Linked DNA regions of Homo sapiens. The protein of the gene in region 3 purifies or fractionates together with the protein of the main gene of each other region. This does not show direct contact. Each region holds a gene or a part of one and is shown on either strand. Other genes may lie near its edges.

Evidence for each region.
Region 1: the proteins of SRSF12 (region 3) and TESK2 purify together in Homo sapiens (affinity purification with mass spectrometry, with the first as the bait; one large-scale study listed by BioGRID). This does not show direct contact.
Region 2: the proteins of SRSF12 (region 3) and RASAL2 purify together in Homo sapiens (affinity purification with mass spectrometry, with the first as the bait; one large-scale study listed by BioGRID). This does not show direct contact.
Region 4: the proteins of SRSF12 (region 3) and KIF13B purify together in Homo sapiens (affinity purification with mass spectrometry, with the first as the bait; one large-scale study listed by BioGRID). This does not show direct contact.
Region 5: the proteins of SRSF12 (region 3) and NAV1 purify together in Homo sapiens (affinity purification with mass spectrometry, with the first as the bait; one large-scale study listed by BioGRID). This does not show direct contact.

The regions. Positions count from the first base shown.
Region 1 is NC_000001.11:45,480,246-45,486,388, forward strand, and holds part of TESK2 (dual specificity testis-specific protein kinase 2), read right to left. Parts: intron 1-6,143. UniProt on the Homo sapiens protein: Dual specificity protein kinase activity catalyzing autophosphorylation and phosphorylation of exogenous substrates on both serine/threonine and tyrosine residues. Phosphorylates cofilin at 'Ser-3'. May play an important role in spermatogenesis.
Region 2 is NC_000001.11:178,441,778-178,447,920, reverse strand, and holds part of RASAL2 (ras GTPase-activating protein nGAP), read right to left. Parts: intron 5,247-6,143; coding exon 4,692-5,246; intron 2,404-4,691; coding exon 2,259-2,403; intron 1-2,258. UniProt on the Homo sapiens protein: Inhibitory regulator of the Ras-cyclic AMP pathway.
Region 3 is NC_000006.12:89,097,103-89,102,551, forward strand, and holds part of SRSF12 (serine/arginine-rich splicing factor 12), read right to left. Parts: intron 1,846-5,449; coding exon 1,476-1,845; 3' UTR 1-1,475. UniProt on the Homo sapiens protein: Splicing factor that seems to antagonize SR proteins in pre-mRNA splicing regulation.
Region 4 is NC_000008.11:29,139,811-29,145,953, forward strand, and holds part of KIF13B (kinesin-like protein KIF13B), read right to left. Parts: intron 2,494-6,143; coding exon 2,347-2,493; intron 808-2,346; coding exon 658-807; intron 382-657; coding exon 253-381; intron 1-252. UniProt on the Homo sapiens protein: Involved in reorganization of the cortical cytoskeleton. Regulates axon formation by promoting the formation of extra axons. May be functionally important for the intracellular trafficking of MAGUKs and associated protein complexes.
Region 5 is NC_000001.11:201,778,324-201,784,466, reverse strand, and holds part of NAV1 (neuron navigator 1), read right to left. Parts: intron 4,047-6,143; coding exon 3,908-4,046; intron 3,456-3,907; coding exon 3,158-3,455; intron 2,292-3,157; coding exon 1,598-2,291; intron 1,062-1,597; coding exon 615-1,061; intron 1-614. UniProt on the Homo sapiens protein: May be involved in neuronal migration.

The DNA.
Region 1 (6,143 bases), on a different chromosome or scaffold from region 3:
GTCAGGAGTTCGAGATCAGCCTGGCCAATAGGGTGAAACCCCATCTCTATTAAAATATAAAAATTAGCTGGGCGTGGTGGCACACACCTGTAGTCCCAGCTACTCAGGAGGCTGAGGCAGAAGAATTGCTTGAACCTAGGAGGTGGAGGTTGCAGTGAGCCAAGATTGCGCCACTGCACTCCAGTGTGGGCAACAGAGCAAAACTCAGTCTCCAAAAAAAAAAAAAAAAGAAATCTCACTTCTGTGAATTTATCCCACAAATATCCTTGCACACATATAAAATGACACATTCAAAGGCCCTTTTTACAGCATTGTTTATAATATCAAAACACTGGAAACATAAATGTCCATTATAAGGAATTAGTTAAATAAATTATGATACATCCATTCAATGGAATACTATGCAGGTGATTAAAAAGAAAATAATAATAATAATAAATGAATAAATAAATAATATATATATAGGCCACAGTGGCTCACACTTGTAATCCCAGCACTTTGGGAGGCCAAGGTGGGTGGATCACCTGAGGTCAGGAGTTCGAGACTAGCCTGACCAACATGGTTAAACCCCGTCTTTACTAAAAATACAAAAATTAGCCAGGTGTGGTGGTGCACACCTGTAATCCCAGCTACTCAGGAGGCTGAGGCAGGAGAATCACTTGAACCCGGGAAATGGAGGTTGCAGTGAGCTGAGATCGCACCACTGCACTCCAGCCTGGGTGATGAAGTGAGATTCTGTCTCAAAAAAATAATAATATATATAACCAAAAAAAAAGAATGAGGAAGCTCTCTATGTACTGATCTGGAAAGGTCTCTAAGATATATAAAGTAAATAAGCGGCCGGGCCTGGTGGCTCACGCCTGTAATCCCAGCACTTTGGGAGGCCGAGGTGGGCGGATCACGAGGTCAGGAGATCGAGACCATCCTGGCTAATACGGTGAAACCCCATCTCCACTAAAAATACAAAAAATTAGCCAGGCGTGGTAGCAGGCGCCTGTAGTCCCAGCTACTCGGGAGGCTGAGGCAGGAGAATGGCGTGAACCCAGGAGGCGGAGTTTGCAGTGAGCCAAGATTGCGCCACTGCACTCCAGCCTGGGCGACAGAGCAACACTCCGTCTCAAAAAAAAAATAAGCAAGATTGGGGGTGGGAAGTGCAGAACAGTGGGGAACCATGGGCAACTGTACATGAAAAGTGGGAAAAACAGGACTATACAATTGACCCTTGAACAACACGGGTTTGAACTGTACAGGTCCACTCATGTGCTGTAGTTATTCACAAGTGTGATCATAGCACACTATGGCCTCAAACTCCAGGCCTCGAGTAATCCTCCCACATCAGCCTCTGGAGTAGCTGAAACTACAGGCAAAGCTGTATTACATACAGATTTTTTTCAACAAATATATTTTTTAAATTTTTGGAGATGTATAACATTTTGAAAAAAACTCAGAAACAAAACACCTAGCCTAGAAACATCAAAAAAATTAAGAAAAAGTTAGGTATGCCATGAATGCAGAAAATATATGTAGATACTAGTCTATTTTATTATTTACTATAAGATATATACAAATCTATTATAAAAAGTTAAAATGTATAAAAACTTATGCACACAAATACAAACCATACATGGTGCCATTCATAGTCAACAGTAAACAAATGGAAAGGTGCAGTATTAAATCACAACTGCATAAAATTGACTATAGTATATACTGTACTTCTGTAATAATTCTGGAGCCACCTCCTGTTGCTGTTTCAGTGAGCAAGTGTTGTGAGTAGCCCCTAAAATGCTGTGTGATGCTAATCGTCTCCACGTGAGCAGTTCCTTCCTCCAGTAAAAAGTGTCACAGTAAAAAGTGATCTCTCAAGGTTCGTGCATATTTTTCATCATGCTTAGTGCAATACTGTAAACCCTGAATAACACCATGAGATCCATACCAAGTGCCACTAATGCTGGAAGTGCTCTCAAGAAACAGAAAGGTCATGACATTATACGAAAAAGTTGGCCAGGCATGGTGGCTCACACTTGTGATCTCAGGACTTTGGGAGGCTGAAGGCAGGAGGATTGCTTGAGCCCAGGAGTTTGAGACCAGCCACGGTAACATAGTGAGACCATGCCTCTACAAAAAAATAAAAACTTATCCTGGAGTGGTGGCACACACCTGTAGTCCCAGCTACTCAGGAGACTGAGATGGGAGGATGGCTTGAGCCTGGGAGGTCGAGGCCATAGTGAGCTATGATCAGACCACTGCACTCCAGCCTGGGCAACTGCCCCTGTCTCAAAAAAATAAATAAATAAAAATTTGAATTGCTTGATATGTACCACAGATTGAGATCTGCAGCAGTAGTGGTCAGCCATTAAAAAAAAAAAAAAAAAAGTAAATTCATGAAGCCAGGCTATGCAATGCCAACAGCAACAGCAGTTAAGTTTTGCGGGAAGTCAAAAATTATACCTGGGGCCAGGCGTGGTTGCTCACACCTGTAATCCAGGCACCCTGGGAGGCCAAGGGGGGTGGATCACCTGAGGTCAGGAATTTGAAACCAGCCTGGCTAACATGGTGAAACCCTGTCTCTACTAAATATACAAAAATTAGCTGGGCGTGGTGGCAGGCCCCTGTAATCCCAGCTACTCGGGAGGCTGAGGCAGGAGAATTGCTTGAACCCAGGAGGTGGAGGTTGCAGTGAGCTGAGATGGCGCCATTGCACTCCAGTCTGGGTGACAAGAACAAAACTCCAATTCAAAAAAAAAAAAAAAATGTCCGGGCGCAGTAGCTGACGCCTGTAATCTCAGCACTTTGGGAGGCTGAGGCGGGCAGATCACAAGGTCAGGAGATCAAGACCATCCTGGCTAACACGGCGAAACCCCATCTCTACTAAAAATACAAAAAAAATTAGCCGGGCATGGTAGCGGGTACCTGTAATCCCAGCTACTCAGGAGGCTGAGGCAGGAGAATGGCGTGAACCCAGGAGGTGGAGCTTGCAATGAGCTGAGATCACACCACTGCACTCCAGCCTGGACAATAGAGAGAGACTTCGTCTCAAAAAAAAAAAAACAACAACAACAAAAAAGAGGAGCCGGGCGTGGTGGCTCACACCTGTAATCCCAGCACTTTGGGAGGCCGAGGCAGGCGGATGGCCTGAGGTCAAGAGTTCAAGACCAGCCTGGCCAACATGGTGAAACCCTGTCTCTACTAAAAATACAAAAAAATTAGTTGGGCATGGTGGCGCACACCTGTAAACCCAGCTACTCGGGAGGCTGAAGAGGGAGAACTGCTTGAACCCGGCAGGCAGAGGTTGCAGTGAGCTGTGCCATTGCACTACAGCCTGGGCAACAAGAACGAAACTCCGTCTCAGAAAAAAGAAAAAAAAAAAAAGGAAATTAATGAAGCCAGGTTATGCAACACCATCACCAACAGCAGTAGTTAAGTTTTGCCGCGAGGGGGCGGCGGAGGGGGGGTCAAAAATTATATTTGGGGCCAAGGCACAGTGGCTCATGCCAGTAATTCCAGCACTTCCGGAGGCTGAAATGGGAGGAGTGTTGATGCCCAGGAGTTTGAGACCAGCCTAGGCAACATAGGGAGGCCCTGTCTCTACAAAAAAAAAAAAATTAGCCAGGCATGGTGGCATGCACCTGTGGTCCCAGCTACTCATTCAGGAGGCTAAAAAGGGAGGATCACTTGAGTCTACAAAGTTGAGTCTACATCGAGCCATGATCCTGCTACTGCACTCCAACCTGCGCAACAGCAAGAGATTCTGTCTTAAAAAAAAAAAAAATTATACTTGGATTTTCTACCGCACAGGGGTTGGCTTCCCAACCCCTGTTTTGTTCAAGGGCCAACTGTATCATTTCATTTTTAATTCTTCTTTTTTTTTTTTTTTTTTTTTGAGATGGAGTCTCCCTCTTGTCGCCTAAGCTGGAGTACAGCGGCGCGATCTCGGCTCACTGCAACCTGCGCCTTCCTGGTTCAAGTGATTCTCCTACCTCGGCCTCCCGAGTAACTGAGATTACAGGCACCTGCCACCATGCCTGGCTAATTTTTGTATTTTTAGTAGAGACGGGGTTTCACCATGTTGGCCAGGCTGGTCTCAAACTCCTGACCTCAGGTGATCCACCGGCCTCTGCCGCCCAAAGTGCTGGAGTTACAGGCGTGAGCCACCACGCCCAGCCATATATTCTTATTTGTAAGCATTCGCCTAAAGAAAGTCTAAAAGAGGCCGAACGCGGTGGCTCATGCCTGTAATCCCAGCACTTTGGGAGGCTGAGGCGGGCAGATCACTTGAGGTCAGGAGTTCAAGTCTAGCCTGGCCAACACGGTGAAACCACGTGTCTACTAAAAATTAAAAAATTAGCCGGGCGTGGTGGTGCACGGCTACTCAGCTACTCAGGAGGCTGAGGCTGGAGAATCGCTTCAACCCGGAAGGCGGAAGTTGCAGAAAGCCGAGACTGCGCCACTGCACACCAGCCTGGGCGACAGAGTGAGACTCTTGTCTCAAAAATAAAAAATAAAGGGCCGGGCGCGGTGGCCCAAGTCTGTAATCCCAGCACTTTGGGAGGCCGAGGCGGGTAGATCACAAGGTCAGGAGATCGAGACCATCCTGGCTAACATAGTGAAACCCTGTCTCTACTAAAAATACAAAAAATTAGCCGGGCCTGGTGGCGGGCGCCTGTAGTCCCAGCTACTCGGGAGGCCGAGGCAGGAGAATGGCGTGAACCCGGGAGGCGGAGCTTGCAGTGAGCCGAGATCGCGCCACTGCACTCCAGCCTGGGCAACAGAGCGAGACTCCGTCTCAAAATAAATAAATTAATTAATTAAATCAAATTAAATTAAAAATAAAAAATAAAGTCTAAAAGAATATAAAGAGACTATTCAAAGTGTTTGGGAGAGGGCATGGAACCAGGTTAATAAAGAACAGAGATGGAAGTAAGATTTTTCACTGTTTTGTTTTTTGTTTTTTGTTTTTTTTTGAGATGGAGTCTCGCTCTGTCGCCCACGCTGGAGTGCAGTGGCGCGATCTCGGCTCACTGAAGCTCCACCTCCCGGGTTCACGCCCTTCTCCTGCCTCCGCCTCCTGAGTAGCTGGGACGACATACATGTGCCACCACGCCCTGCTAATTTTTTGTATTTTTAGTAGAGACGGGGTTTCACCGTGTTAGTCAGGATGGTCTAGATCTCCGGACCTCGTGATCCGCCCGCCTCGGCCTCCCAAAGTGCTGGGATTACAGGCATGAGCCACCGCGCCCAGCCGACTTTTCACTGTTATATAAATTTATTTTTTATTTTATTTTTTTTTTTTTGAGACGGAGTCTCACTCTGTCGCCTAAACTGCAGTACAGTGGCATGATCTCGGCTCACTGCAACCTCCACTTCCTGGGTAGAAGTGATTCTCCTGCCTCAGCCTCCCAAGTAGCTGAGATAGCAGGCGCAGGCCACCTCACCCAGCTAATGTTTCATATTTTTAGTAGAGAAGGGGGTTTCACCATCTTGGCCAGGCTGGTCTCGAACTCCTGACCTCAAGTGATCCACCTGCCTCAGCCTCCCAAAGTGCTGGGATTACAGGCATGAGCCACCGCACCCAGCCCTAAATTTATATATTAAAAAAGTTTACATTTAATAACCAGTTGAATGTATTATCTATTCAAAGATTAAATGTATCTTAAAAAAAAAAACTAAAGCTCACAAAAGATAAGTAATTTGCCTTTATATTAACCATCATATAGTTAATAACAACAGAGTTGAATACAACTAAGGTTTTCCTAATGTTCTTTTCCTTTTATCACACTGCCTTTTGGAAATTTTCAGGAATGGAAGACATAAAACTTATTACAACCAGGCTTTTCTCTGAAACAGCCACTGCCTGTGATTGTTCAGGGAAAATAACACTAGTGAGACTACACTGAAGTCATCTCCATATGATGACTTTGTAAATAGTATAATAGCCATTGTTGGGTCAAAACATTCACCATCACCCACACAATACAATGTAATAATTGGGCTTCATCTACTAGAAGGAGATGAAATTCCCATAAATGCCTTTACCATAGGTTTCAAATTCCAACACTACATTCTTTTTGCAAAACAAAATGAAATGTATGACACTAAGAATATATGTATAAATACTTTCATACAGGGAAGAAAGCATAAAAGCA
Region 2 (6,143 bases), on a different chromosome or scaffold from region 3:
TGTGGTTTCTATTCCTGTTAAGAATCTCATCATCCCCCTAGTCACTCACAACACCCCACAATTCTCTGTAATATTCGTTCCCTCCTTGCTTCCCACAAACTGAAAAATTTGCCAAGTTCTATCAGTTCAACCTTAATATTTCTCATATCCGTCTTCCTCTCTATTCTTACTTGCATGATTACAGTCATTCAGAGTCTCATTCTTTCTTATTACAATGGCTTTTTTTTTTTTTTTTTTTTTTTTTTTTAAGAGAAGGAGTTTTGCTCTTGTCTCCCAGGCTGGAGTGCAATGGTATAATCTTGGCTTACCGCAACTTCCACCTCTCTGGTTCAAGCAATTCTCCTGCCTCAGCCTCCTTAGCTGGGATTACAGGTGCCCGCCACCATGCCTGGCTAATTTTTGTATTTTTAGTAGAGATGGGGTTTCAGCATGTTGGCCAGGCTGGTCTCGAACTCCTGACCTTGGGTGGTGGGCCTGCCTCGGCCTCCTAAAGTGTTGGGATTACAAGTGTGAGCCACCGCGCCCAGCCTACAATGGCTTCTTAATTGATTGGCTTTCAGTAGGCTTTCTTCACCTTTATTTATTTATTTATTTTTTTTAAGACAAGGTCTTTCTCTGTCACCCAGGCTGGAGTGCAGTGATGTGACCATAGCTCACTGCTGCCTCGAACTCCTGGGCTCAAGCAGTTCTCTTACCTTGGCCTCCTGAGTAGCTGGAACTATAGATGTGAGCCACCATGCCTGGATACAACTCGTCTTAATCAGTCTGCTAAGTTAATTCCACTGAAAACACCTGCTCAAAACTTTCAGTGGCTCTCCAGTTATTACTGTAAACTTTAAATCTTCACCCAGGCATTTGAGGTTTTCACAAATTAGTTCTAATTATTGTTTAATCTTTTTGTTGTTGTTGTTCACATGTTTCTTTCATGTCTTTTTCCAGCTAAATAGTTTTATTCCACACATTCCTGGTTCTGTCCCACCTCTATGTCTTTTTGTTTATGGGTCCTTTCCCCCATGCTACTTCTTATCTTATCTGCTCTTGCTCAATGTCTGTTTTTAACCTTTCTATTCATCAAACTACATACAAAACATAAATGTATTTCACACAGAAAGTTTGACAATTCTATCAGCTGGATTCAATTTTTTTAAAATTATTTGAAAGAACACAGAATGTCTCTTTTTGGTATAGAGATATCCCTAATGTTATATCCTTACATTGCAAACTTCTCGAGGGTAAAAATCTCTCCAATCATTCAACATGTTTTTACTTTCTATTCTTGATAGTCACACGTGGCTGTTGAGCATTAGAAATGGCTTGTGCAAATTAAAATGTGTGATACATGTGAAATACACACTGATTTTCAAAAAGAATAAAAAAGTAAAACACCTAATTAATAACTTTTATTCTTCTAAACCATTAAATAGTATTTGGATATACTGGGTCAAATGAAATATGTTATCAATTTCACCTGTTTCTCTTCATCCTTTTTAATACTGTGACTACTAGAAAATTTACAATTACTCAAAAAATAAAAATAAATAAAAGTATTCACACATGGGTCATATTTCTATCGGACAGTGCTGCTCAACAGTGTGTGCAGGTAGTGGGGATATGGAGGTAAAACAAAGGGCTATTTCCTTCAAGGAACTCACATCTGCTCTATCATGATGTATATTAAAGTGACCAGCACAGTACCTTACTCTAGCGGTTAATGCCTCAATTTCATGACCAAATCTGGAACTGCAAGTGCGTAGCCTAGTCAGCAAGAACTACTGATTGGACAAAAATTAGTTATGTTAAAAATTCTAGAGAAAGGCAGAAATTTGTGGGGGAGTTGTGGGAAGTGGCAAGAGTTTCTTCACTTTTGATTAGAGTTTTGCATGCATGATAACAAATGTCAGGGTAACACTCTCAAGACTAGGTAATAATATCATCATATAAACACCCAAAACTTTGGGCAAAACAGACCACCTCAGATCTATCAGTGGACACTGCTGATATTACTGTGCATCCTGGAATCATGAAGCTGGGGACCTGGGGTAGCAGTGTATGCTGACAAGGTTTCTGTTTCTACATTTATTATTATTTCTCTACTGGTGAGTACTGCAGACTTCTTACAGCCATGATTCAAACCTTAACACCTGAGTCAGCTAGAACTAAATAACATGCAGAATTTGAGCTCAATTCGTCTCATGGGGGTGAAATAGCTTAAAACTGAAAAGTAAATAAAAGAAAATAGATGTTTTTCTCTTTCATACCCAGTGCGTCATGAAGATACTGTTGTCCCACCAACTTGAGGTATTCCTCAATGGATTTGGTGGCAATAGTGTTCTCTCTGAAGATCAAGACATCATGCTCTCCACAACGATCCACCTCAGACATCACCAAGTCAGTCAGAAAATCCTGGTAGAATAATGTTCAATCAGGCAGAAAGCAACTGAATAAATAATACACATTAGAAGAGACTTTTGAAATATCAGACATCCTGGAAATGCTGCTTTAAAACTAAAGCTATCAGATTCATCTGAAAGGAAAAAAAGCAATCAGGATAAAATGTTAGGTGTTCCTACCCCTACATTTAAAATTCCCTCAAAGATTTTCCATTGCACTTTTGATAAAGGCCATAATTCTGAATGCAGTCTACAAGTCCCTATATTTTCTGGTTTCTGTCTACCTTTCAAGCCTTGTACCTTTTCTTTTTAGGTCCTTTAATACACCAAGCCCTTTCTAACACACACAATGTTCTCTATTCACCACAAAGCCTTTTTTTTTTTTTTTCCAAATACTGTTCTCAGTTCTGCTCTGCTCCCACCCTTGCTTCCACTCCCACTGTCAGGTAGCTCATTCCTGGGATCCTTTGGATTTTAGTTCACACATCATTTCCTCAGTGAAGGTGTCCCTGACCAACATTGCCCCTGAACTCCATTAGTCAGCTCCCCTTGCTCCATTTCATAGTATCATCTCTCTTTTTATCCTCTGTAGTTCTCACTGTAATCATATTTATTTCTGTAATTACTTGATTAATATTTATTTTCCCCAGAAAACCAGTTTCTGTTTTTGTTTACCACCATATCTCCAGCACCTAACAGTTTCTGGCATATATTAGGTGTTCAATATATAATACTTACAAATCGGTCCACAGTGTCAATGTAGAATCTACTGAACTCATCACTTGAAGTCATTGTCTAGGCTATCTTTCTGTCTGCCCGCCCACCCATCCATCCGTCCATCCATCCATCAATCCAGAAGGATAGCATAAGGGGAAATAAAGGTGCAAAGAAACAGCTGCTTCATTCCTCAACAGTCTTAAAGAACTTCTAGTAAAGCTCAATGTTGGTTGTTCAGTTTGAATGTGATAACATCATATATTTTGAATGCTATATAATTATTGGATATTTCAAGGGCTGCAAATGCCAAAATAGGAGGAATATGCTGATTTACTTTTACTTTAAAATTAAGCATTTTAAACATCAATGGGACTTACTCTGGGGCAGCTTAACAGTATAACAGAGTTGTAGACTTAGGAATCACTATTAAACTTAATGCTAAGAGACAGGAGGAAACTCTTGGGGGTAACGGTAACATTCTGTATCTTGATCATAGTGGTGGTTTCGATGGGTGCAAAATCGGTCAAAGCTTACTGAACTTTTCCACTTTAAATGGGTGTTTATTCTACCTAAAATGTACGTAAATCAGTATTAAGTCATTTAAAAAAGTCTTAATGTATATTCTGAACCTTGAGCAACTGAAAAGTAGAAATATATCCATACAATTCAAAATTTCAGTGACACCTCGCTCCAAACTCATAAGCTTTTTAATGACAGAATGCCCAAGATTATCATAAGTAAATTTAAACACAAAAGTTATAATCCATAGAAGCCAGATAAGAGACTAAATATTGAATATATTGATATATTCCGACATATCAAGAAATAGTAATAGTACTTTGTTTGGTTCTAAATACATTATTCTAGCTGTGAGTTTCTTTGGATCTGAGATGTAATTTTATCATGACCAGTTTGCATACAGTATAACGGTAACTCTTCCTAGTTAATATCCTTCATAGGTCAAAGACTCTCTCAACTAGTTTTTGTTCTTCCCACAACCAGCATATTTCTCCTTTAAATAAAAAATATTCCTGAGTTTTTACTTCTATCCAAGGTGAAATAAGTGTATCATGAAACAGCTACCAATTGTATCATATCCCTTGGATTTTTATTCTAAATATAGATTTTAATCCCACAAAGACTCTTGCTAATACTCAATATGCTTCTGGAATACTTCCTTCTGTGCCTAGAGGATACAGTCATCAGTTAAACTTAAATAAAATACAGTGAGGAAGAAAACCACCATACAACACTCTAGAACTAAATTAAAGATAAGGAACCTTGAACATGCTGTAGGGTTATCGTGCCAATCCTACCATTTATTTTGTCAGACAAGAAAGAGCTGGCTGTGTTATCTATGTTTCATGCAAATTGGCTTTAAATATTTGCTGGTCTCTCCATTTTACTTGTTTAGTTTTATAATCTTCATCTTTTCTGGATCTAATAGGTTTTCTTCTTAATTCTTCTTGTTTTGACCAATAGTAAAGCACATTTCTCTAATTTGGATTTCTACAATATCCATATCTTGGTTTATGAAAGGTAGGGAAGAGACTTCAGGTACTGCAATCCCCCTTTTCCACTTACCTTGGCTCTGCCAGTACTTTGAAGAATGTGCACTAAGGCACAAGCCAACTCCTCTTTATTTCTCACACTAATTACTGGCTCAAGGACAGAACACAGCATGGTGTAGTTGCTGGTGACAAATTCTGCAAATTCTTTGTATTGCTCCATAGGCAGAATGGTGATAGTTTGGAAACGTGATTTAATCCGAATAGAAGGTCCTCCTGTCTTTCCTTTGTTGGGTGTAGGTGTACTCACTGGATACCACTTTTCTACAAATTGGCGACCAGTCACACTGGCAGTGGGGATGTTGACTAGCCCTACATAATTATTCTTGTCCTTTTTTTTCTTTTTTTCCACATCCTTGTAAATGTGAACTGTGATACTATGAAGAGGTGGAAGGCTGAAGAATTCAAAATGTTCGCCCCAGAAAATATTGTCTGCTTTGGTCTTGCTGGTTGTACGAGCAAAGAGGGTATCATCAAGGCACAGTTCGCAGAAATATTTCTTTTTAGGGGCAAGGTCCTTGGCTTCAATGATCCATAAACGAAGAACATTTTCAGCTCGCCTGCAATTGTCCTATAAAGAGGCAACAAAGCTGAATTTCAGAGCTGACATTGCAGAAAAAAAAACATTTTTTTCTTAAGTTGGCAATGTTCATTAGGTACTCTATTAAGGGGAGTCAACAAATAATGAAAGGGATTGCTATCTCATTGCTTAGGTTAACAGCAAGCTCTAAACAAGCATGCATTAGAATCTTGAAGAATTATATATAGTTCATTATATATATTATATATAGTTCATTCTATTTTATTTACTTGGGTTAAGAAAATATCATTTTGTAACGGTAAGTTTTCATATAACCAGTCTAATATCTGCAAATAAAAGAGATAAGCTGTTAAGAAGCTCGTATTCTAGTCCCTCTTCTATCATGTACTAGCTTCTGACATGGCCAATTCACCTAACTTTTCAGAGTCCTTTTATCCATGCTGGTAGAACCATGGCAATAATATCTGCAGTAAGACTGCTTTTAGCTTAAAATGATAATACAGTTTGGATAGTTGTCCCTGCCCAAATTTTATGTTGAATTGTAATCCCCAGTGCTAGAGGTGGGGCCTGGTGGGAGGTGTTTGGATCATGGGGGCAGATTCCTCATGCCTTGGTGCCATCTTCCTGATACTGAGTTCCTGTGAGATCTGGTGGTTTAAAAGTGTGTGGCACCTTCCCCCCAAGTCACTCACACACACACTCTCTCTCTCGCTTGCTCCTGCTTTCACCATGTGATGTGCCTGCTCCCCTTCTGCCTTCTGCCATGACTGTAAGTTTCCTGAGGCCTTACTAGAGGCTGAGCAGATAACAGCACCATGCTTCCTGTAAAGCCTGCAGAACCGTGAGCCAATTAAACTGCTTTTCTTGATAAATTACCCAGTCTCAGATACTTCTTTATGGTGATATAATAAGGGCTTACTACAAATG
Region 3 (5,449 bases):
CTAATATGCAAAGAAAACTGGAATTTGTATTCAAAACAAATAGAAGCAACACTGGCTCCTATATACTAAAAATATAAGACAGATTTTTTTCTTAAACACTCTGGATACAAATACTAACTGTATGGATTGAGAACTTTGAAGTTTTCATAATGTAAGTCACAAAGTATACAAGTAGAGCTCTATAAATATATCCCCTATAATAATCATATGCAAAACCATTCTATCACAAACACTACCAAAACCCTTTGAAAAACATAAACTACAACACATTTTCAAAGAAATTATTAGTTATAACAACTACAAAAGCAATAAATATCAATAAAGTTATTTGGCTGTCAGAAATGAAGGGCAGTATAATGTAAAATTCAAATACTGCAAAGTTGTTTTTTGAAGATGTAGTCTCGAGTTTCTTCTTCTTCTTTTTTTTAAATTTTAGAGACAGGATTTCACCATGTTGCCCAGGCTGGTCTCAATCTCCTGGCCTCAAGCAATCTGCCCGCCTCGACCTCCCAAAGTGCTGGGATTACAGGAGTGAACCACCACGCTTGGCCAAGTTTCTTAATACAAGGTACTAAACACTCTTTCAAAAATAATAAGACTTGTTCCATATAAAGTTGAGCAAGAACTCTAAAAAGAAAAAATTAAGCAACAGATGAAAAGTAGGTATGTGGAAATAATGGTATCAAATATGATTTTATACAAAATGTACCATTCTTCAAATGTGTAAGTCTTAATATGAATATTTTTGGATTGTGAGTGTTGCTCAGCCTAATTTTTAAAGAATTAGTCTCAAACCATTCAAAATCCAGTATTTCTCAAAAGTTCTGATATTACTAATGTGGTCATGGTGCAGGATGCAATTTCATGTCAACTTACCTATACTGTTCTACCCAATAAAAATATAACCTTTGAGCTTAGGAGAGAATGTATCTTTTGAATGTTTGATCTCTATATATATTCTACTTTTTGGAACATCAGAATTTTGTAATATGAACTAATATCCACCAGGAATTGGCCCAAGTTTAAACAGAAGACACAAAAGAGACATAGGTGTCAAACAGCTTAAGTCTGCTCTATGCAATTATACAGTCATAGTTACTTTTTACATGAAAGTGCTTTAAAGTCAAAAATATTTGTGTAAAAGGTATTATTAATAGTACTAATACTATGCAAGTAGAATTTTAAAAATTAGTTCCAGTTTACTCATTTCCCTTGAAAAGTACCCTTCTGCCACAATGTAAATAAAAAATGGTCCATAAAATGGTGACATTAGACAAATCATAATTTGTAGTGTGGGCCCTTTAAATGGAGACCAAATTTTTATTAATCCAAAGCTAGAGATTTTATTTCTTCCATATGCCCAAAGTAACTAATATCAACTCGCATTTTCTGTATGCCTTAAAGAATTTTTATTTAACATAATGAGAGTTTAATAACTTATATTAAAGACGGCGTGGTGCTCTTTCTGTTGCTGTTCACCAACTGTTTTTATGACGATAACTTCGAGATCTGGAATGTGACCGAAAATGAGAATGCTTTGCTGTTTGTACTTTAGTTTCAGAATTGGTATACCCTTTGGGAGATTTACACGGGGATCTTGCTATTGAGTCAGAATGTCTTCCATGTGATCTTGATTTTGTTCCTGAGCTAGTCTGCTTTTGAGGTGAACTTGACTGTGATTTTCCTATTGACTTGGACCTCTTTTGTAAGGACTTGGACCTTGACCGTCCTCTAGAGCCAAAATTCCTTCTTGGAGTTCTTGACTGCCTTGCTGAGGTAGACCGCCTTGGTAATGATTTGGAACGAGATTTAGACTGGCTATAAGAAAATCGCCTGTGTCGAGACCTGCAAACATCCATAATGTTAGAGCATATATTTCACACAAAATAAGAGATCAGGAAATAACACTTTCAGGAACTTACATACTTTACATAACATTAGTTATATTTTTACTAGATAAGCTAAAAAAATTTCTCATTTTATTATGCATGCTTTTGGTTCAAACATAAGTAACAAGTTTGTAATATTTGTTATACTAGAATATATGGCCAAAAATTTTTACTTTGCTAGACATATAGGGATCAGTTCTGAAAAATACACTGCATATTTGGTCTGAGTTATACAGCTCTTAAGAGGTACAAAAATCTGAAGAAAAAAAGATTAAAAAAATCAATTATTTACAGTTCAAATAATGCTTATAAAAATAAAAATCTAGATGTAGGACTTTTGGGTCCTGCCATGACAGAACAGCTTGTATTAGACTAATCTTCCCATAGAAAACAGCTCTCTCTCTCTCTCTCCATATATATATACATATATATATGTGTGTATATATATACACATATATATGTGTGTATATATGTGTGTGTATATATATATGTGTGTGTATATATATATGTGTGTATATATATATACACACACACACACACATACATGTTTTTTTTTTTTTTGAGACGGAGTTTCGCTCTTGTTGCCCAGGCTAGAGTGCAATGGCACGATCTCAGCTCACCGCAACCTCCGCCTCCCAGGTTTGAGCAATTCTTCTCTCTCAGCCTCCAGAGTAGCTGGGATTACAGGCATGCGCCACCACGCCCAGCTAACTTTGTATTTTCAGTAGAGATGGGATTTCTCCATGTTGGTCAGGCTGGTCTCAATCTCCCGACCTCAGGTTATCCCCCTGCCTCGGCCTCCTAAAGTGCTGGGATTACAGGCGTGAGCTACCACACCCAGCCGAAAACAACTATATTGAAAAGCTACACAACATTTATAAAACAACTGTTCGAAGGCACTGGAGGATAATCAACACAAGCAGGAAGAACCTGAGGGATTACAAGCCTTGGCTCTTTTACTAAGACCATTTTTCAAATGACAGCATGGAGGAGTTGAGCCCAACCAGAAAATGGCTATTTGACTAAGCTGAAGAGAGAAAAGTTAATTCAGGGCTACCAAAATGGGTGGGACACGAGAGGCAAAAACTCTAGAGAAGAGTGAATTAGAGACCAAAAAGTACCTCTAAAATTTGCCTACAAATTATCCTTAAATCACTGGCCATCTTCTAAGTTGTGTGTGTATGGAAGAGATTCCAAGGGACCAGCAAAAAACCGGAATTCAGAAATTCAAGAACTGCGCTGAAATTTTTATCAGACACACAGTGCTGAGAGAGAGATTAGAGTTCAAACTCCCAAAAGGTCAATGAGGAACATTAGGTAACAACCCAGAAGGGCTACAATCTAGAGGTAAGGGCCATGCCCTAGGAATAAATTCAAAGCCAAAACAAGCAGCTTTAACAACACCCAAAACCAAGCCTTAAGATCAAAGTGATCTGCCAGTACTCTGTCTACCAGAAGAAAACTGTCTTTGGAGAATGATAATGTCATGCAGAGCCTCTATAATTTTTTGTCCATGTCCACATGTTATGTTAAAAAAAAAAAAAACAGGCAAGAATAACTAAAAACTAAGGAAAATAAAAGGCAAAGAATCATTCCCAAAGTGATTTGGATATTGGCATCATCAAACAGGAATTTAAAAAATTACTATGAGTAATATATTTAAGAAAATAAGAGGAAAAGACAAAACAGATAAAAAGATCGTTCAGTGGAAAACTACAATCTATAAAAAGAAACAAATAGACATTTAAAACTAAAAATATATGATATCTGAAATTAAAAAGTCATTAGATGGTCTTAACAGCAATCTAGATATAGCAGAAGAAATAATGAACTAGACTGGGTGCAGTGGCTCATGCCTGTAATCCCACTTTGGGAGGCCAAGGCGAGTGGATCACCTGAGGTCAGGAGTTCAAGACCAGCCTGACTAACATGGTGAAACCCCATCTCTACTAAAAATACAAAAATTAGCCTGGCATGGTGGTGCATGCCTATAATCCCAGCTACTTAGGAGGCTGAGGCAAGAGAATCAATCACTTGAACCTGGGAGGCAGAGGTTGCAGTGAGCCAAGATCGTGCCATTGCACCCCAACCTGGGCAACAAGAGAAAACCTCCAAGACAAAAAAAAAAAAAAAAGAAAAGAAATAGTTAACTAAAAGATCATTAGAAAAACATCCTACCGAAATACAGTGTGAGAAAAGGAATTTTAAGAAATCCCTAAAAGAACACAGCAGATGTATAGCATACAGTCACACAAGCCAGAGGAAAGACTGAATAAGGCAGAAGCAATATTTGAAGAGATAATAGCATAGAATTTTACAAAACTAACAAAAAGCATTAACTCACAATTTCAAAAAGCTCAATAAACCCCACATAGGCAAAGAAAACTACACTGGGCACATCACAGTGAAACTGATGAAAACCAAAGTCAAAGAAAAAATCTGAAAACCGGCCGGGTGCGGTGGCTCATGCCTGTCATCCCAGCACTTTGGGAGGCTGAGGCAGGTGGATCACCTGAGGTCAGGAGTTCCAGACCAGCCTGGCCAACATGGAGAAACTCCGCCTCTACTAAAAATACAAAAATTAGCTGGGTGTGGTGGCGGGAGGCTGAGGCAGGAGAATCGCTTGAATCTGGGAGGCGGAGGTTGTAGTGAGCCGAGATTGTGCCACTGCACTCCAGCCCAGGTGACAGAGTGAGACTCTGTCTCAAAAAAAAATAAAAATAAAAATAAATCTGAAAACCTTGCCAGAGAATGAAAGACAAATTTCTTTCAAAGGAGCAACCACAAGACTGACAACTCACTATGGGTATCAGAAAAACAATGGAATGACATTTTTAAAGAGAAAAATAAAATCACTGCCAATATAGAATTCTATCCTCAGCAAAAATATTTCTCACAAATGAATTTTAAATAAAGATGTTTTCAGACAAAAGCTGAGATAATTCACTATCAGCAGATGTGTACTATAAGAAATACTAAATATTCACTGCCCTGGTACTTCTCGGTGAGCTGAAAGAGGAAAAAAAGAAATACTAAATATTCTTTAGACTGAAGAAAAATGATACTAGATAGTAACATTGAACTAGATGAAGAAATTTAAAAAGCTTTCTTTGGAGAATGATAACACCATGTAGAGCCTCTTCAATTTTTGGTTTTGTTTGTTTGTTTCTGAGACAGAGTCTTGCTCTGTCACTCAGGCTGGAGTGCAGTGGGGCGAGCTTGGCTCACTGCAACCTCTGTCTCCCGGGTTCAAGCGATTCTCCTGCCTCAACCTCCCAAGTAGCTGGGATTACAGGCACGTGCCACCATACCTGGCTAATTTTTGTATTTTTAGTAGAGATGGGGTTTCGCCATGTTGGCCAGGCATGTCTGACCTCAAGTCACCTGCCTCAGCCTCCCAAAGTGCTGAGATGACAGGCATGAGCCACTGCACCTGGCCTCTCTTGAATTTTTTATTATATATTTATACTGAAAATACATTGATGTAGAATATATTCTGGAATAAATTCACAGTCTTTTAGAAATTATTAAATTTCATTCATTTTGTAGACAGCTGTAGG
Region 4 (6,143 bases), on a different chromosome or scaffold from region 3:
CAGCAGGTCTGGCTCACTAGCGGGTGTTTGGAAATGGAGGAGGCGATTTTGCATTATCATGAGTGGGGGAGGCTCTGCTCTACTTCCAAAATTTGAAAAGGAACATAATACTTACCATCTAAAGACCTGCAGTTCTCAAAATCAGCTATTAGGTTGGTGCAAAAGTAATTGTGATTTTTGCCATTAAAAGTAATGGCAAAAACTGCAATGACTTTTGTATCAACGTAATACTAGGATGAAGCTGGGACTTACCATGCACACCAGTTTGTTCTCCTGGGTCTCCTTCTCAAAGGAGACCTCTGCCACCTCATCGCCTCCTGCGATCCTCTCCCCAACATCACCACTGAGTCGCATCACCTCCACGTGCAGCCGACCTGCCACCTGCAGCAATGAGGGAAGGCAGAAACATTTCTCCAGATTTGGTTCGTGCTCCCTTGAGATGACCTCTCTTCTCTTTTACAGTCAAGTTGTCAGGTTAATGGTGTATGGGAATTTAGAGGCCTAGTCTCTGACAGTTACTCTACCCTAAGAGTCCTTGGAAACACAAGGTATTAATAAGACACGTTACTGACAAAAAATAGCAACAATATCCCATCACCACCCTCTTGTTTCTTAAACTATTCTCTACAGGAAACAAGGCATGAAGAGAAAACCAACCTCTCCTTTCTGGTTGATGATGGGAACAGCGTATTGTAACTTCACATCATAGAAAAGTGACTCGAGGAAGACATTGGCCACCCCAATGAGACTGTGATTTTCCTGCTCATCATAGAATGGATCAGCACGTTTGAAGTATGATCGTATTACCTGTAAAGAGATTGAGAACACACAACTTCAGAAAAACCATTTACAATAAATGCATTCAACCTACTGCTTTTTGATGCACTCTAGGTTATTAAACTTAACTTTCATCATCCTAACTCTTGTATTTTTTAGAGTAAAACATTCTAAAGTTTTTGCTAAAGCACAGCGCTGTATTACTCCCATACACACTCTTCCTCATTCCCATTCACAATGGAGGTGAGCATCCTCCACCCATGACAGAGCGATCCCAGTAACAGGTCATTACTTTTATCAGCTATTCTCCTTTACATGGAAATTTTGCCACAAAATAAACAATATATGTTGACCAGAAAAAGAAGTAGAGTGTGCTAAACTACACTTCACCTTTCTTTTGGGAAAGACAGTAATTCTTATCTGCTCTGCTTATTCCTAGCAAGTCATCAGATAAAACTGCTGCTAATAAAAGGTGAGCCCTCACACCTATAATCCCAGCACTTTGGGAGGCCAAGGCAGGCGGGTCACCTGAGGTCAAGAGTTTGAGACCAGCCTGCCCAACATGGTGAAATCCCGTCTCTAATAAAAATACAAAAATTAGCCAGGTGTGGTGGTGGGCGCCTGTAATCCCAGCTACTCGGGAGGCTGAGGCAGGAAAATCACTTGAACCCAGGAGGCAGAGGAGGCAGTGAGCCAAGATCGTGCCACTGCACTCCAGCCTGGATGACAGAGCAAGACTCCATCTAAAAAAAAAAAAAGGTGAGCCCCTATGGGAGTGGCTCTTTCATTATTTATTACTGTTGTTTTATTTCTAAGTTGAAATAGGAGAGGGGTACCAAAGAGACAAACATGTTTTAAGCAAAAACATCACCTAACTATAAGAAACATTTTTATTGATAACAATCTGGAAAAATCATTTTTACAAAACAAAAGGCAAAGGAAGTAAACAACTCTATGCGGAAACAGGTCTAACGGTAATGAAAATATGTTCAGACATACATAATATGCACTTCTATTTTAAATACGTATGAGTACATGGCTGATCTAAGTAAGAAAACCTGCAAGTTAAGGACAGAGTACCAATGTATAGATTTATGGCATTTATGTTATGATCAAAACTTCTTCAAAAATGCTCCTTGGAGTGTAAATATTAAGATACCACCGATGTTCAACTTACAAAACATATATTGTAGGTTTATTATCTGCAAGGTTAAACGGGTTGAGCAATGGGAGGAGAGACAAATAATGAGGCCTGGCCTCTGTCCTAAAGAGGTTCCCAGAGAGCACAGGAGACAGACACCCGCACACCAACAGAAGTCAGAATGGAAAGTGGAGAATTCTGCTAGAAATCTAAAAGACAGAAATGAGAAGAAAAAAGAAGATACCAGAAAGAGAGATTATTAAAATTGTTAATTTGCTAAACAATTTAGGGGATTAAAATAAACCTTACTCCAGAAATAGGATTATAATTTTGGAAAAAGAACAATTTTCCCCTGAAATGGGTAGACTCATTCCAGCTTGGCTCCTTCCATAATTACCAATTAAGTGATTTTCTCTTAAATAACTTACTGGGTTATCTTCTTCACACTCTTTCCACTCCTGATAAAGGTCTCTCATATCCAACAGCCTGTTGTCCAGTTTTTCCAAAGACCAAATCTGCTTTCCTTTTCCTTTTCTTCTCACCTGGATTGCAGGCTCACTAAGAAGAGAGCCTCGCTGCAAAGAGAGTAAGAATGACCGTGAGAAACACACAGGCAGCGGGGAAGTCAAAGCTGACAATTCCACCCCCATCAGTCAAATGTCATTACACCAAAACTCAAATGGCAATCATCCTTTAATCTGTTGATTACAAAGCCTCCAAAAAGTCTTACAAGCTATAACATAATACCTTCCTACCCAAGTGCAATCAAAACCTATTTATAAACTTCACTTTAAGTATAAACTTACATTAAAAATTTTTTGGGGGGAGTTGCTGGGCATGGTGGTTCACGCCTGTAATCCCAGCACTTTGGGAGGCCAAGGCAGGTGGATAACTTGAGGTCAGGAGTTCAAGACCAGCCTGGCCAACATGGTGAAACCCCTCTCTACTAAAAATACAAAAATTAGCCGGGTGTGGTGGCACGTGCCTGTAATGCCAGCTACTTGGGAGGCTGAAGCACAAGAATTGCTTGAACCCAGGAGGCAGAGGTTGCAGTGAGCTGAAGTCTTGCCACTGCACTCCAGCCTAGGTGACAGTATGAGACTCTCAAAAATAAATAAATATATACATGTGTGTGTGTGTAAAGAGACAGCATCTCACTCTGTCACCCAGGCTGGAGTGCAGTGGCACGTCATAGCTCACTGCAGCCTCGAACTCCTGGGCTCCAGTGATACTCCTGCCTCAGCCTCCCAAGTAGTTAGGACCACAGGTGCATGCCAATACACCCAGCTAATTTTGTCTGTTTTGCATAGAGACAGGGTCTTGCTATATGGCCAAGGCTGGTTTGGAACTCCTGGCCTCAAGTGATCCCCCTGCTTCAGCCTCCCAAAGCACAGGGATTATAGGCATGAGCCACCACATTTAAATTTTGACTGTAGTTGGAAATGATTTTAAGTTTAAAACCCAAAAGACCACATTTAACAGCAAGTTGAAATAAAAGTATTTTATTCAGGCCACCATATGACCACAACGTTATCAATGGGGAGAGAGGGAAAGTTTGCTGCGGTGTATGGGGAAGAAACGTCCCTCTCAGAGGCTGAATTTTGTTTTATTGTAATGGATGGCATCTTCAGGGGGTATAAAACATGAAACACTTAAAAGAGTAAACTGAAAAGTCCCCGATTCACCCACGTGGAAGCAATTAATGATACCAGTTTCCAAATATGCATTGTTTGGGTTTCTTATTAAGATCATACAGAACTAGATGGAAGCGGTGCTCACACCACATTATTACCGTGCCAAATGCCACTGAGTTATTCACTTTAAAATAGTAATGTTTGGCCAGGTGTGGTGGCTCACGCCTGTAATCCCAGCACTTTGGGAGGCCAAGGCAGGCAGATCACAAGGTCAGGAGTTTGAGACCAGCCTGGCCAATATGGTGAAACCCCGTCTCTACTAAAAATACAAAAATTAGCCAGGCATGGTGGTGGGCGCCTGTAGTCCCAGCTATTCAGGAGGCTGAGGCAGAAGAATCGCTTGAACCCAAGAGGAGGTTGCAGTGAGCCGAGATCGCGCCACTGCACTCCAGCCTGGGCAACAAAGCAAGACTCTGTCTCAAAAAAAATAATAATAATAAAATTAAAAAAAAGTAATGTTCTATTATGCAAGTATCACACCTCCCCCCCAAAAAAAGTATGCTCTGAAGTTTTTCCAGCTTATAAGAGCAATGTGGATTTTTTTCAGAGTAGAACTTGAGCAATGTGTTTTTAATGTAGAAAAAATTTTAGAACTTTTAAAAAACCACAAAGTTAAAAAAAAAAAAGCCCCTATACATTTCCCCGAGGGAGACATATCTACTGGTTATCTAATCAATTTAGGTTTACTGGCTTAATTTTTCAAATGTTCTACTTAAAACTGAAGAGAACTTTGAAATACATTGATGTTTCATTAACATCTTGCCTACAATCATTTTCTAAGAAAAAAATTTAAATAATAAAACAAACATTTGAGAATTCTTACGGTCAAAATGCGTGTGTGTGTTTTTTTTTAATTGAGACAGAGTCTCTTTCTGTCGCCCAGGCTGGGGTGCAGTGGCCCAATCTCGGCTCACTGCAACCTCCGCCTGGGTTCAAGTGATTCTCCTGCCTCAGCCCCCCAAGCAGCTGGGATTACAGGCGCCTGCCACCACGCCTGGCTGATTTTTGTATTTTTAATAGAGATGGGGTTTCATCATATTGGCCAGGCTGGTCTCGAACTCCTGACCTCAGGTGATCCGCCCACCTTGTCCTCCCAAAGTGCTGGGATTACAGGCATGAGCCACCATGCCCGGCCATCTTACAGTCAAAATTAAAGGCCCTCCTACCTTATATTCAGCCAGCCAGTGAATAAATACAAAAATCCCATTTGTGACCTGTGTGGGTAGTGGCTTTCCTGGGGGAGAATGCTGGACCTGGGACTATAATAGCAACGGGCAATATGGTGCAGCTACCATAACTTAGCCCTCTTGCAAAACTGGAAATAAGAAAAAAATTCACCAGAGAAGAGTTCACAGAATGGACAGGACTTTAAACAACTTTTCAAATACCAAAAAATAGTCTGTTGCACGAAAGACTACAGAGTCAGCCTAACTAAGGAGAGATGCCAGGCGACATGAGTTCTTCCAGGCGTTGACATGGCTGCCCCAGTGCAGAGCCACACCTTTCAACAAAGCCCAAAAGAGGTTACGGAGAAAAGGGCTGCGGTCATGCTTACTGGGGAAAAATCTTTCAGGTTTCTGCTTTTTTCAACTTATACACTATAAAATCAAAGAGGATCTTGTACTTCTCAGCCTTCAAGGAGAAACTAGGCCCTGAACCTTCTCCTTGTGACTGGCCTTCCTCTTCGGTTTTTGGTGAGTCCTACTGTACCCAGACTTTGCCCTACAAATACTAGTGTTCTAATTAAGTAAAAATTTTCAAAATACACACAGAGTATACAAAAACAATGATCTGTAAAGTAACGATCATATCATATTTACAATACCTTTCTCAAAATACTAAGAATCATATTTGCCAAATATCTAACCCTGTACAAAACGCTGACCTTGATGCTATGATGTCATAGGGAAAGATGTAATCCTTGCTATCAAATTAGAATAATATCCGCCTGTAATCCCAGCACTTTGGGAGGCCAAAGCAGGTGGATCACTTGAGGTCAGGAGTTTGAGACCAGCCTGGCCAACACAGCAAAACCCCATCTCTACTAAAAATACAAAAATTAGTCCAGCGTGGTGGCACACACCTGTAATCCCAGATACTGAGGAGGCTGAGGCAGGAGAATCGCTTGAACCCAGGAGGCAGATGCTGCAGTGACCCAGGATCACACCACTGCATTCCAGCCTGGGTGACAGAGTAAGACTCCCTCTCAAACAAAAAAAAGAAAAATAGAATATCCAAGATGGATTGATTAAAGTTTTGCTGTGTTGACTACCGCAGGCTAAACAGAACACACGGATCCACAAAAAATTCATCTGAATAGAAAATTCTACCTAATCCATCAAAAATTATGTATGAATGTGATCAAGAGCTAGAAAAGAACCTCAAAAAAAAAAAAAAAAGATGAAGGAAAAAAACCCAACTGAATGGCAAAGATAGAAGATTGTGATGGGACTTTCCCCCTACATTTTATTAAATTTATTATACCAAAAAAAGTATGATCCTGAATATATACATGACACCATGACACAACT
Region 5 (6,143 bases), on a different chromosome or scaffold from region 3:
ATTCTGGGCAGCCAGGTGTGGTGGCTCATGCCTGTAATCCCAGCACTTTGGGAAGCTGATGTAGGCAGATCACTTGAGGTCAGGAGTTCAAGACCAGCCTGGCCAACATGGTGAAACCTGGTCTCTACTAAAAATACAAAAATTAGCCGTGCATGGTGGCAAGTGCCTGTAATCCCAGCTACTTAGCAGGCTGAAGCAGGAGAACTGCTTGAACCTGGGAGGCAGAGATTGCAGTGAGCCAAGACTGCACCACTGCACTCCAGCCTGGGCAACAAGAGCAAAACTCCATCTCAAACAAAACAAAACAAAATGATTTTGGACTAGGAAGCAAAAGCTCTGGATGATAGGTTAACCTAATTATGAGATCTTGGATGAGTCATTTAACTTCTTTGTGCACAAGTTTCTTCATTTTTAATATAAGAATAATAATTTAAAAACAAAAACACATCTTACCTATCTCATGGAGTTGTTGTGAAGCAAATTAAATTACTTAATATATGTGAAAAAATGTCAAAAGTCACAAAATGGCAATAAAATATAGGATAGTATTGCCAATGGCAAAATGAGCCCAAGACACGGAGACAGGCCGAGGTTCTGCTGTCTTTTCTACCTACCTGTCCAGTTGCCCAGCTCTGGGGCTTCCACTCCAAGTCAGCTCTTCCGTCTCTTCTTCTGTGGGAGCAGCAGGGGGAGCAGGTGGGGTGGGGACGGGAGTACTGCTGGGGAAGGCACTGGGGAGGCTCATTGGCATCTGGAGGGACTCCATGCTCCTGTGCAGGCCTGAGAGTTTGGGGTACATGCGGGTCTCTTTTGGCACACTGAAACCACTCATTAGCTCCAGGCCCTGGGAGAAGCTGGCTGAGTTAATATTGAGGATGGGTGCCGGACTGGGGGTGAAGCAGGAAGGGAGAGGGCCCCCAGATGCTGAGCTTGTAGCATGCAGATCTGGGACCTTTGAAGCATGGGTGGTATCACTGGATGATGGTAGATCCAGACTGTTGGAGTTGACCTTGTCAAGATTGGCTAGTGAGGGTGGTTTGACAAAGCTCTTCGCTGTGGCCCTGAGAGAAGATCAAACGAAATATTTAGAATAATAGAATTACAGAGTGAGAGGCAGATAGGACCTTAAAGAAATCCTATCCAGTCTTGTTTTCTGCCTATTTGCTAAGCACAGAGGCTTATCCTAATGCTGTTGTGAAATACAATGCAAGGAAATCTGATACCCAACTTGGGGCACATTCAGCTTAGATAAGGGGCCAGCATATGCACATGGGAGATACAAGTGAATTTATGCAAATAGGTATATATGTGTAAATAAACAGTAAAAACACCCATACAAGTGCTGAAGACAGGGTAAGCATTGATCAGAGAATAGTACAAATGAGGTAAGTTTTGAAAGAGGGATTCAGTCTTTCAGAACTGTCAGAAACTAGATTCTTTCAGAACCTTGGCATATGGGGGAGAGGTGGGAAAGAGCCATGCAAAGGCCTAGAGACAACGGTGGATAGGCCATGCCTCATCTAGTCCAAGGAGGGCAGAGATATGCGAAAGAATGACAAAGCAAACAGACAAGGAGGCGGCTGCCCACATTGGGTACCTGAGAGGGGTTGGTGGCAGCTCTGCCAGCTTGGTGGCTGTGGGGTGGCTTGCTTGGTTCTTGGGAGTACTTTCTGGGGAGCCAATACTCTTCAAGGAGATGTTGTCTGAGTCCAAGGCCACTGCCTTGGCTTTGGCCTTCTCCTTTTCCCGATCTGTCTGATTGACAGGGGCTGGAGTGGTCCGCCCACTGGCTACCTTGGTAGGCTCCTTCAGTCTGGAAGGCGTAAGGCCTCCCTGCTTGGTGCTGAGGAGACTGGGGTCAATGCTGCTGCTCACAGGGCGAGGTCCACCCCGCCCGCCGGTCACGCTCATAGAACTTGACTTGGCTGGCCGGGGCAGGCTGCGGTACTGGATGTTAGAACGGGCTCCAGGAGCCAGGAATCCTGGCTCTGCACTGTTGGAAACATCTAAGCTAGTCTTGCGCCCATTTACTGGCTTGACAGGGATGCCTGAGGACTTCTGGATCTTGCTGAGAGTGGCTGAACCACCAGTTTGCATGACAGTGGCTGTGCCTGTGGCAGGAGGAGGCTTCTTGTAGCCAAAGGATCCCGAAGTGGAGGGGCGAGCAATGCCCGAGGGGGGCTTCTTAGCATCACTCAGGCGGTCCCGACCAGCATCAGAGGAGGAGCGTTGGAGCCCAGTATTCTTCACTGCAAGCTTACCCTTGTCTGTAGCTTTGCCCTCAGGTTTGCCTGCAAGAGGACGGGAAATGAGAAAAGAGCTGAAACTGACCAGTATCTTAAAAACCCACCCTTTTCTTTCCCTCCATGGGAGAAGGGAACATTGTCCATGTATTGTAGACTTTTAGAGGCCTAAATTTGGGTAAACAGGTACAAGATAAGCTGATAAAGTTTCTTGTCTGAAAGACTCTGGCTGGGAGGGGTGGGGAGGCTAGGAATTTTTTTTGTTTTGCTCCCAGAGTAGAATGGTCCATTTTGATTAAAAAGGCAGAGGCAAACACAAAGATGATCAAGAATATCCATCTAACAACTAGTTGTGGAAGGGAAAAAAAAGGTGGGGAAGCAAATGGAATAGAGTATGACAATATCTCTTAGTAATTAGAGACTACAGGAAAATGTTGATTAAGGCTAAAAGTTACCCAAGGGGCCAACTTTGGGGGCACTATAATTCTCTTGCTGTAGCCATTTTATTTATTGTTTTCTTAGGATCTTCCTGAGATGTCAAGCTGTATCCTATGAAAATAAGTGCCTTGAGTGACTAACTTGGGAGAAAGAAGAAAGCAAGCATTGGAAGTGTTTGGAAGGAGGCCAAACTAGTCTCTAAACATAATATACTTCCTCCTGTACCTCATATTAACTGGGATTTTGGCCCAGCCACTTAATCTCTTTGAGTTTCTATTTCCTCCACATTTGTAAAATGGAAATAATAACACCCATCTTTCCTAACTCACGGGACTGTCCTTAGACCAGATAAGATAATGTCTGTTAAAGCACTATGCAAATGTTTGCTATCATCCTATGGGTTAATGACCACTAAGAAGAGGAGCAACCAAAGAACTAGGTCTTTGCCCTTGTACCTTCCTTTATTCCAGGCTCACCTGCGACTTTGAGGGCACTCTGGGCTGTGTGAGTGATGGGGGAAGTTACAGCCACAGGTGGGGTCTTGCCCTTCTTCAGGGAACCAGGGTGGCCCAGGCTGATGGGCTTTTTCAGTTCTCCACCCTTGGATGAATCATCACAGCTCTCAGGCCGCTCCCTCCGCCACTTAGAAGTCCCAGGTTCCATCTTCAGGCTACCACTGTCGTACTCCAGTTTTTTAGGGGCTTTCTCCTCTGATTCACTAAACCAGCTCAGCCCACTTTCTGCCAGTGAGCGCTTCTCTGAGTCTGTGCGTAGCTAAAGAAAAGAGAAAAAGGCAGAGTGAGATACTTCTATGCAGATGGGAGACTGGATAGCTGACAGGATTGATTTTAGTTAGTACCTGGCGCTGCTCATCTCAGAGTATTAAGTCAAACTGAGGGTTTCTACCTATACCCCTAGGGTTTCCAACAGCAGATGACATATATCTCGGGGTTTCTTTTTCTCCAGTTGGAATAGCTCTTACATGTATCACTCTAGATTGGTGTAGGCACTAAGTATACACAATATGACAACATCTAATGTCTTGGGTGAGTAGCCTTAGCTTTTTTTGGGAGGGGGTGGGGGCAACTCTAAAATGACCTGGCCAAAGGCCTATGAGAACCAATCCCATGGAGTGGGTGTGTACGTGCAACCCCATACACAGATAATGCCATTTGCCCTGTGGTTCATCTTGAGATGGCAGCTTGGGTGTTTGCAAACTCACGTACCACTATTGTTGAGTTCCTGCGAGAAGCAGTGGGAGTACTTGGGAGGGAGTTGAGTGAGGAGCTGGCATTGAATTCTTCTGAACTGAGATTGTCTGAGGCATCGCTGAGTCCACTACTGATGGAGCTGCTTTCATCCCAGCTACAGGACAGGAGAGATGAAGGTCAATCGTTAAAACAGAAGCCCAGGCAAAAAATAAATGTTTCACATTGATGCAAGAATGGCTCTGCACCAGTATATAGGCTAGCCAAAAGGAGAAAACCTGGGGGTTTGTCCTAGGTTTGTCAGCAACTCAAAGTGTGACTTAAACTTCCTTGTAATTTGGTGATGTTCTTTTACAAAAGGAAGAGACTCTGCCTTTATCTGGCAAGAGAAAACGTTGTATCTTCTTAACAGAAAGGTATTTTATAAAGGCAAGGTAATTTTTGGATCAATCTAATTATACAAACCAATTTACTCTCCCTGTAAACAACCTCCATTCTTAAAATTAACATATCTTTGTTCATTTTTAGACGCGTTCTGCATCTATTCTCCCCCTCCTTTTCTAAAAATGTCTATAACTGGTAATGAGGCCCAGAAAAAGATTTCTCTTTTCTAGAACCTCTTAGACTTTTATCATTTCTCATTGAGCCTCCGTTTATGCAGTTCACCCTATCCTGGGATCGGGTCCTGCTTCTAAACAGAACATACTGTTCTTCTGTTAAGTGAACCAAATCTAAGGTGCTGTGGCCATGTAGAGGGGCCAAATTTGTGCTGAATGGATTCATTTCTCTGCCAATTGCTTGGAATATCAGGTCTGTGGTATTAGGGAGATACTGCTGTTAAACATCTTTATCTGTAAACATCTGTATCCAAAAACGCTACTTCATGCACTAAGTGAACTTACTACAACCTCCATATCTTTGTAGCTTGAGCTCTACAAACATTCATTTGGCTGTTCTTTTTTTTTTTTTTTTTTTTTTTGAGACGGAGTCCTGCTCTGTTGCCCCAGGCTGGAATGCAGTGGCACAATTACAGCTCCCTGCAACCTCCGCCTCCCAGGTTCAAGCAATTCTCCTGCTTCAGCCTCTCAAGAAGCTGGGATTACAGGCACCCGCCACGACACCCAGCTACTATTTTTTTTTTTTTTTTAAGTAGAGACAGGGTTTCACCATGTTGGCCAGGCTGGTCTTGAACCCCTGACCTCAAGTGATCTGCCCGCCTCAGCCTCCCAAAGTGCTGGGATTATAGGCGTGAGCCACCGTGCCTGGCCTGGCTGTTCATTTTTGGGTTTAACAAGTTTCAGTCAGAAAGTTTACCCTTAGCCTCAAAACTAGCCTCCTCTACCATTTATATTAATTTCCTCTTATTCTATCTTTGCTATTCACATTTCTTTTCGATCACATGCATTGTTTTCTAAGCTCGAATTCTGTCTCCTGTAAGCTTTCTTCAAAGGTCCTGTTTTCCAAGTCTTTCTCAATTCCTTTTGGACCTTAAAAAGTTCTTCAGATTTCACTCAAGTTTTACAGCCTAAAACTGAACACGGAAGTTCAGTAAGACTGCTATACATGAGTATTTGTTTGTGCCGGTAGGAATTAACTTCTAAATCCTTGTTATCTGTGTGCAGAGTAGGTTTGTTTATCAGCATTGCATATATGCAAGGACTAAAAGGCTGAAGATTTTTTTGTGTGAATTAGCTGCTATCTGAAAAAATTTTTCTTTTTGATTTATTCTGAGTTTCATATCATGGAACAAAAATCAGACATGCAAGTCATCTAAGTGGTTGGCCCAGATCTCAGCTGGCTCCCTCTAATTCATGTGCTGGGAATAGGAAAGTGGGTGGTTTGGACATTTTGGCTTTGTTGCTCTGTAGTGATTTATCCAAATACATTGAGAAAGAGCAAAGAAAGCATGGGGATTAGAACACACTACAGAGTTCTTTAAATTTTATGACTATGAAATATAGCCGTTATTGAATGACAATCAACCTCTTCCCCTCTTCTCCTCCTGATGTATATTAAACCTCACATTTGTCCTGGGCTAAGATGTCATACCCCCTCACTTTGTAGAGAAAGAATACTGAGGAAAGATCAATGCTGGTTTTATGATCCTATCAGCTCTTCCAGGTCAAGATAAGATCTTTGGCAAGCAAGCAAACAAACTATTCTCAGCATGTTCTCTAAGTCAAAGACAGAGGAAGCCTGTAGCACTGAATATTTCATCTGAGATTAATTATTGGTAATCAAGGTCGTGAGGCAA